2 separate regions of the Homo sapiens genome follow, and region 2 is linked to region 1. Evidence: fine-mapped expression QTL. Tissue or cell type: blood mononuclear cells. Region 1 holds a variant in brackets; the other region holds the start of a gene. All regions are shown on one strand. Distances are between the middles of the regions.

Evidence for each region. PIP is the estimated chance that this variant, and not a neighbour inherited with it, causes the effect. A credible set is the group of variants that fine-mapping cannot tell apart.
Region 2: it holds the start of STXBP2, and the variant in region 1 is the best candidate, but not a certain one, in a credible set for the expression of STXBP2 in blood mononuclear cells (TOPMed, PIP 0.55).

The regions. Positions count from the first base shown.
Region 1 is chr19:7,612,907-7,617,420 of GRCh38, reverse strand. CAMSAP3 (calmodulin regulated spectrin associated protein family member 3) reads right to left here. Exons shown (of 17, transcript NM_020902.2): 11 at 4,258-4,514; 12 at 2,099-2,238; 13 at 1,702-2,003; 14 at 799-898; 15 at 1-95. Among named protein-coding and RNA genes, the nearest start is that of MIR6792, 2.3 kb to the left of the region's middle. The variant G/A (reference allele first, on the strand shown) is at 2,576.
Region 2 is chr19:7,635,530-7,639,529 of GRCh38, reverse strand. STXBP2 (syntaxin binding protein 2) reads right to left here and starts at 2,420. Exons shown (of 19, transcript NM_006949.4): 1 at 2,344-2,420; 2 at 755-804; 3 at 430-511. The coding sequence starts at 2,380. It also overlaps a transcript of PCP2 not described here. RefSeq lists enhancers at 1,291-1,817, 1,818-2,346, 2,347-2,874 and a silencer at 2,313-2,602.

The DNA of each region.
Region 1 (4,514 bases):
ACGCTGGGGAGGAGGCATTGCTGCCATTTTCCCAGTCCCGTTCGCGGCTTCCAGGCAGGCGGCTTGGGGACATGAGACCTGACGGGGAGGGAGCCCTGCAGTGGGAGAAGGATGGGATGGAGGTGGGGTCAGGATGGGATGGAGGTGGGGTCAGAGATGGGAAGCTTCCCTATGTGCAGAGGGGCCAAGGAAAATAAGGGCCACGGCTGGGCATCGTGGCTCATGCCTGTAATCCCAGCACTTCGGGAGGCCAAAGCGGGCAGATCACTTGAGGTCGGGAGTTCGAGGCCAGCCTGGCCAACATGGTGAAACACCGTCTCTACAGGCACGGGTAACCCCAGCTACTCAGGAGGCTGAGGCACGAGAATCACTTGCACCCAGGGGGCGGAGGTTGCCGTGAGCCAAGATTGCGCCACTGCACTCCAGCCTGGGCGACACAGCAAGACTCCCTCTCAAAAAAACAAAAAAAAAAAAAAAAAAAAAAAAGGCGGGCCACACACACTGCAGAGGAGGCGGTATACACTGCACACCCTCCCAAGTCCATGCAGTGCCCCGTGCTGTCCTCCTCCCACAGGAACACCTGGCACTCAAGTGCACTGAGGCACATGCTTGAGTCCTGTCTGCCAGGTACAGACTATGCCCCATGCACACGTGCCCACACGCGTCCCTCCATCTCTTCATGGCGTATCCATAAACTCGAGCCATACCGCCCTCTAGGTTCACCCAGATGCCCACACACCTCCCAGGCTCTGGGAAGCCACCCGGCATACGAACCCCGCCTGTGCGGGCTAAACTCACCGAGACGTGGGCCTCTTCACCCCGAGGTTATTGTGGGCCTCGTTGGCCACAGTGGACAGTGACAGGGTGGACTGGGAATAGATTTTGCTCAGCCGAGAGCCTGGGGACAGAGATTGCAGGTCAGTGCCCACCAGAAGCCCCTGCCCTCCACAACACCCGGTCCAGCAGGCTGTGGGGGGAACACAGGAGGAGTCAGTCCTGCCCAAGACCCCTCGGCCCTCTGCAGCACCCCTATGGGGGGACCCCTCTATGAGGGAGGATGCTTTGCCCAGCAGGCAAGTGGGGAGCAGCACTGGGTCAGCCCCTACTGGCAACGCCTCACCCCAAACATACTCCCAAAGGTTCCTATCCATGAAGCCACAGAAGAAAGACCCCTCATCCCACTGCACCCCACATCCCTATGGAAGTCTTTTTTTTTTTTTTTTGTCTTATTTCTGAGACGGAGTCTCGCTCTGTTGCCCAGGCTGGAGTACAGTGGTGCAATCTTGGCTCACCGCAACCTCCACCTCCCAGGCTCAAGCGATTCTCCTGCCTCAGTCTCCCAAGTAGCTGGGACTACAGGCATGCCATATGCCCGGCTAATTTTTGTATTTTTAATAGAGATGGGCTTTCACCATGTTGGCCAGGCTGGTCTCAAACTCCTGACCTCAGGTGATCCGCCCGCCTCAGCCTCCCAAAGTGCTGGGATTACAGGCGTGAGCCACCGCGCCCGGCCCCCTATGGAAGTCTTTACCCAAGAGACAGTGTCCAACCCCACCTGAGGCCCCCTGTCACCCCACATACCCGCCCCCTCCCGGCACCCCTGCTTACATCTCCCTCCCCCTCCCCCCTTACCCATGGGGGCCTCACCCAGTGAGCCCCGGAAAGGGCACTGGGCAGGCCCCGTCCCCCAAGGGTCCTCACCCAGCAGGCCGCGGGCTGGGCTTCGTGCCAGGGCTGAGTCGTCACAGCAACCCGAGCGAGGCCGGGTGGCCCTCCGCCCGCCCCGACCTGGACCCCCGGACCCCGCAGCCCGGGGCCGCAGCACCTTATCGAGGTCGTCCATCAGCTTCAGCTGGGCCCGGCGCTCGTACTCCTGCCGCGTGAAGTCCCCCTTCCGGGGGCCCACCTCCTCCTCGGCTGGAGCCCGGGCAGCAGGGGCTGGAGTCGCCATCGGGACTGCGGACACAAGCGGGGCTGGGCCCGGGGCCTCCTCTTGGGCCAGCCTGCAGATCACAGGGAATCGGCATCAGAACCGCTCACGGGGTCCGCGGTGGCAGACAGGCCAAGGAGCGGGCGTCCCGGGCAGGCCCGGCCTCACCTCGCGGCCTCCTCCCTCCGCTGTTCCTTCTCCACCTCCTGCCACTGCTTGCGCCGCCGCGCCTCCTCTGCTCGCCGCTGCTGCCGCTCCAGCAGGCTGGCCCGCTTTTGGGCCATCTCGTCCTCAGGCTTGTCTTCATCCTGGGGACAGACGCCGAGTCCAGCCAGCCACCCCCTCCCCCAACATGGCTGGAGGCCCATCTTCCCTCCACCCAGCCTGCCCGCCACCCACCTGTGCTTTTGTTTTCATCATTGTTCTAAATGCACTTAGTTGGTGCCTACTGTATGCACAGCCCCACACTAAGTACTGGGACACAACAGGGATGGGATACACTGGGTGCCGCTCACACACACACTGCTTAACCCAACGGGGAAGACAAAAGCAGCAGACAGCAGTGAGTGCCAGCAAAAGCTCGTGTTGGGCACAGACACTCTACACTGCGGGAGGACCCCGGCCTGGCCTGGAGACACCCAGGAA[G/A]GCTTCCCAGAGGAAGTACCCTGTAGAATGATCAGGATTTAACTAGGTGGGCGTACAGAGCAGAGCGTTCCAGGCAGAGGGGACAGCTAGTGCCGAGGCCCTGAGGCTGGAGCAAACCTACTGGGGGGCACGGAAGTACAAGGGGGCCAGTGTGGCTGGGACACAGAGCTGAGGACAGTGGCGCAGGACTAAGTCAGAAGTGAGTACAGGCCAGACGCGGTGGCTCACACCTGTAATCCCAGCAGTTTGGGAGGCCAAGGCAGGTGGATCACTTGAGGTCAGGGGTTCGAGACCAGCCTGGAGAAACCCTGTCTCTACTAAAAATGCAAAAATCAGCTGGGCGTGGTGGCATGCTCTTGTAGTCCCAGCTACTCAGGAGGGTGAGACAAGAGAATCACTTAAACCCAGGAGGTGGAGGTTGCAGTGAACCGAGATCATGCCACTGCACTCCAGCCTGGGCCACAGAGCGAGACTCTGTCTCAAAAAACAAAAAACAAAAGAAAACAAAACAAAAAAAAAAAATGAAAAGGAAGTCCTCCCCAGGGCTTTGGGCTGTGCTCACTTTTTTTTTTTTTTTTTTTTTTTTGAGATGGAGTCTCGCTCTGTTGCCCAGGCTGGAGTGCAGTGGCACGATCTAGGCCCACTGCAAGCTCCACCTCCTGGGTTCACGCCATTCTCCTGCCTCAGCCTCCTGAGTAGCTGGGACTACATGCGCCCGCCACCACGCCAGCTAATTTTTTGTATTTTTAGTAGAGACGGAGTTTCACCATGTTAGCCAGGATGGTCTCGATCTCCTGACCTCATGATCCGCCTGCCTTGGCCTCCCAAAGTGCTGGGATTACAGGCATGAGCCACTGCGCCCGGCCACCCTGGGGAGGACTTTCATTCTAAAAGCAAGGGTAAGGGGAGCAGTCAAAATCCCCGACCACTCAGTGCAAAATGGCCCGGGATGGAGGCAGGCAGCAGAGGCCAGTCAGGTAACCCTAGGTGTCCCCGGCTGGGAAAGCCATGGGAATGGAGAGACAGTGGACACAGGGCAGGGCCAGGAAAGGGGTGGTAGGAGCGTGCTGGGGGCGAGGGGGTGAAGGAGAGGATGAGCAAGGAGGTGCGCTGAAGATCCTGGTCCTGTCCGTCTATCTGTCCATCACCCACCCACCCATGCAACCAGCCATTCATCCATCTGTCTATCCATGACTCCTCCCTGTTTCTCCACCCCTCCCCACATCTATCTATCCCCCTTGTCCGGCCACCCATACCTTGTTTGGGAGGGACATGACTGGGTCAGCCCCCACTGGAAACCCCTCACCCCCAAACATACCCGAGGGCCTCACTCATTAAGCCACAGGGGGAGGACCTCTCACCCCACTGCACCCCCACAGCCCCTTGTGGAAGTCCTTACCCAACAGACAGGGTCAAATCCCATCTGAGGCCCCTGTCACCCCACATACCTGCCCCCCACCGTGCAAATGTCCCTTTCCCCCCTCTCCCACCCATGGAGGCCTTACCCAGCCACTCACACCTGTTCTGTCCATTCATACCTGGCTCCCCATCTATCCCCCACCCGCCCACCCATCCTTCAGTAAAGCCCTATTCATCCAATAGTGGGTTTGTCCACCTCCCCCCGCCCCCACCCGCCCCCGCCCCAGGCCCAGGACCCTCCAGCCACCTGCTCGGGGACTCACCTTGTAGAAGAACCCCAGCCCCACCCGGGGCTCCCCCTCCGAAGACGCCTCCTCCTCCAAGGAATCCTCAGCACCAGCGGGGCTCCCGTCTCCCTCGTCCTCGGCGGCGGGATCTGCCAGGCTGCCCAGCGGGATCTCGATGAGGCCCGGCCGGGCGGCTGGCTCCTCGGGGGGCGTCTCCTCCGCCAGGAGGATGGAAGAGCGCGTCTGCACGGGCACCTGGCTCGGCGAGAACTTGCGCAGGTGGGGGAGGCTGT
Region 2 (4,000 bases), 22 kb before region 1:
AATTTACAGACAGGGAGACTGAGGTTCTGAGAGGACAGGCTCCCTCAGCACCTATCCCTCAATGGCAAAGTGACTGGGACACCACCTGGGGTCACCCATAGAAGGCTCTGCATTCTTGGGACCCCACATCCAGAGTCCACCCTGGGAGTCCCACACAGGGCTCCACGAGGGAGCTGCACGGTCAGGAAGGGGCTGCAGCCAGGGAGTGCTGCAGGGGAGGCCTGCAATCCATGGGCTCCCGCAGTCAGCTTGCAAGGTTTAAGAATGGATTTGGTCACATGATCCGGGCTGTCCGTGCAGGGAGCTGCGTACTTGGGAGTTCTGGACGATTTGAGGGGATCCTACACTCAAGGGCTGAACCCTGGGAGAGGGGCACAGTCAGGGGTTCCCACGCTCAGGTCCCATCTCACTGGGGACGCGTTCACTCACTGGTGATGCCCTCAGCCAGGATATCTGACATTTTGCAGCAGGAAGACAAGATGCGCATGCTTGGGTGATCCATGATAAGCACCTGTCCAGATGGATGGACAGATGGATGGAGGAGCAGGCGGAAGAGGCCACAGCTGGCCCCAGAAGGGGCCAAGGCAGTGGGAGGGGCAGTTTCAAGGGCTGGCTGGGTGGGAGGACCCAGAACCCATTCACCCAACTCCACCCATGTGGACAGGCAGTTCTTGGGGGTCCCACATTCAGGGTCTTCCCCATAGGCCTGATGATGAGCTGCCTCTGGGTACCCAGCCATCTGCCTCACCCCTACCTTCCACTCCCCATCCTTCTTGACACTCCGAATAACTCCGCTCAGAATTTCTGCAGGGAAGGGAGGGGAGGGGTCAGAATGCTGGTTCTCTGGTCCCACCACTGCCCCAAGCCTTCTCAGCCTTGGGGCTGAACCCCCATCTTAATTCCCATTTACTTTTTTTTTTTTTTTAAGAGAGGAGGATCTCACTCTGTCACCTAGGCTAAAGTGCAGTGGTGTGATCATAACTCACTGCGGCCTCCAACTCCTGGGCTCCAGCGATCCTCTTGCCTCAGCCTCCCGAGTAGCTGGGACTACAGGTGCATGTACCACCCACAGCTAATTTATTTTTATTTCTGTATAGATGGGGTCTCGCTATGTTGCCCAAGCTGGTCTCAAACTTTTGGCCTCAAGCAGTCCTCCTGCCTCGGCCTCCCAAAGTGCTGGGATTACAGGTGTGAGACACGGCACAGGAATCATTTATTTTTAGCCCCCAGTTCTGCAAATTGGCTTCTGGGGTCACCCCCAATTTACAGACAGGGAAACAGATTCTTAGGCAACATGTAACTCACCTACGCATCCTGAGTGTCTAAGTGGCAGAGTGCTGGGGCAAAAGGTGCCACTCGATAAACATGTTTTAGGTGAATGAAAAGAGGAGAACCGGGATCATCTACAGCTCTATCTGCCTCTAGCGCCAGGCTCTCGGCTTCCCCACCTGCTACCTCAAGTATTCCTGCTGTGAGGGTTTCAGCCAGTCCCCCCAACCTGGTCTAAAATGTAGGACCCCTGGTTCCCAGCTCTGAGGCATGCCTAGCTGAGGCTATCCCACTGACCTCCGGTCTCAGTTTCCTCATCTGTAAAATGGAATCACTTTTTTCTAATCTCCCCCAATTAAAGGGGTTTGAGCTACAGACCGCCCTGCCTAGAGGAGAGAGTGGAGAGAAGTAACGGGGTGGCCCCGCCCAGCCACGTCCACTGTGTCATGTCCACTGTTATCAAGACGGCCAGGGCGGAAGGAGCAGCTGAGGCCGGAACTCCCCGGGGTGGAGGAAGAGGCGCCCTCCACCCTTCCCCCAAGAACCGGGGCCGGTGAGGCCTGGACGCCTGCGTCCTCCAGCTGCAAGGCGCTCCTGGAAATGGGGCAAGGAGGAAGACATCCCCTACACCACCCCTGTGGGGCCTGGACACGTCCCCTGAGCGCTCACAGCACCTAGGGTCGCTGACCAGAGCCCTAGGAGGCCCCAAGAATCCAGCCCCTGAACTTTGCCCGGCTTAAGAGATCCTAGAGTGTGGGCATCCAGCTGTGCCCTCCTCCCCCGGCAGGCACCCTAGGAGGCCCAGGAGTCCGGGCCCCAGCCTCCGCCACACTCTACCCGTCCCCTTTGGGTCCCCGGAGTCCGGCCCCCCAATTTTGTTCTGTTCTGGCACCGGAGAGCAGGGGCGTCCAGCTGGGAACCCGTCCCCGCCCGCCCCCTCGAGGGTCAGGTGCTCGGACGCCCAGCCCGGCCCCCAACTCCCAGCCGCCATGAAACCCAGGATCCCAGAGCCCGTGCGTCCCCGACCCCCGTCCCACACCGGACGCCAGAGCCCGGCCCCGGAGAGGCACTCACTTTCCCCCACCACCGCCTTCAGCCCCGAGGGCGCCATCTTCCCCGAGGGGCGCCGCCGCCGCTTCCGGGTGTGTCCCAAGGTGGGGGCGTGGCCCCGCGCGTCACCCACGTGGACCCCGCCCCGCGGGCCCTGTCCCCGCCCCCTGCGCACCTGGCCCCTCCCCGCCGTCGGTTCTCGCCCAGGCCCAGGAAGTTGAGTCCCTGGCGGGGAGGACGGGCAGGTGCGTCCGCGCTGCCGAGCACGAAGTCGCTGGAGGTGCACACCTCGACGACACGCTCACAGATGGGAGTTCAGACACACACTTCCTGGCTTGCGTGCGAAGCAGGATCGCAGGGCAATAATCCCTCCATCTTCCCCGGGAGGTTCTGTGCCTGCAAGATACACGGCACCCACTCGATGCCACCGGGCCGCCACTGTCTGGGCCTGGGATCTTGACCCACTTGCCTTCTGTACTTCAGGGTTTAGAGGCAGCAGCAGCAGCAGCAGCCGTCTTGGATAACTTTTGATGGATTCAGGAGGCCTGGAGACCTCTTGTGTGCAGGCACCTGGACATAATTTTCATTCAGTCCTGCCCAATGTTCCGACCTGGACTGCGGTGCCGACGAGGAAACCGAGGCTTAGCGGGATCCCTAATCCAAGGCCACGACGAGTGAGCCTGCTGGGTTCAAGCCAGGAGCCTGTCCCCAGGGGGCATTTGTCACAGCCTTACCCTCTTCCGGGAGGCGCAACGCTTACCCTCGTGGACCAACAATCGAATTAACATGCTGATACACACATGGGGTGAGTGACGCCCTCAAATGCTTGCAAACACAGACACACACTCGGAATTTCAGAAGCTGCTTCTGCTGTGTGTCCTGTCGCTTGGAAGGCACAGCCCCAGCAGCACCCATACAAAATGAGGTCTCCGATTTAAGGTGCGAGGTATGTGTGCAAACAGACTCTTGCTGGTCTGAGCTGGTTCCTTCGCTCGGCCGTGTTGATGAAGGTACCAAGCCCCCTGCCACTTACATGGGACATAGGGAGTGAATCAGACCCGAAGGTCTGGGGGAGATAGGAAAGGATCCATGCTGCCCTAAAGGAAATAAACTAATGTGACAACAAGTGCCACAGAAGGTAGGGGTGGGAGGGGACTTTACTGAGGATGACCCCCGAGGGCCTCTCTGAAGAAGCAGCCTTTTGACATTATCCCTAAATGGATTCTAGAAGCAGCCACACAGCATGTCCAGGTAGAGAAGGGAGGAGCCCCGAGCTTAAGAAGGCTGGAGGGTGGGGGCAGCAGGGGCCAGACTTCTGTAGGACAAGGTCAGACTGACCCATCCCAGTGCCAGGATGCAGGACTTTCAGTGCTAAAAATAGGACAGTCACAGGCAAACCAGGACGGTTGGCAACCGTAGGTAGGAGTTTGAGCTATTTCTTCCTTTCCTTTCCTTTTCCCTTCCTTTCTTCCTTCTTCTCCCTCCTCCCCATTTTTGTTTGTTTTTGTTTTGTAAAGAGACGGGTCTCGCTCTGTTGCTCAGGCTGGAGGGCAGTGGCACGATCATAGCTCACTGCAGCCTCGACTTCCTGAGCTCAAGGGATTCTTCCACTTCGGCCACCCAAGTAGCTGGGACTACAGGTGCACGCCACCGTGCCCGGTTGATTTTGTTGTTGTTGTTA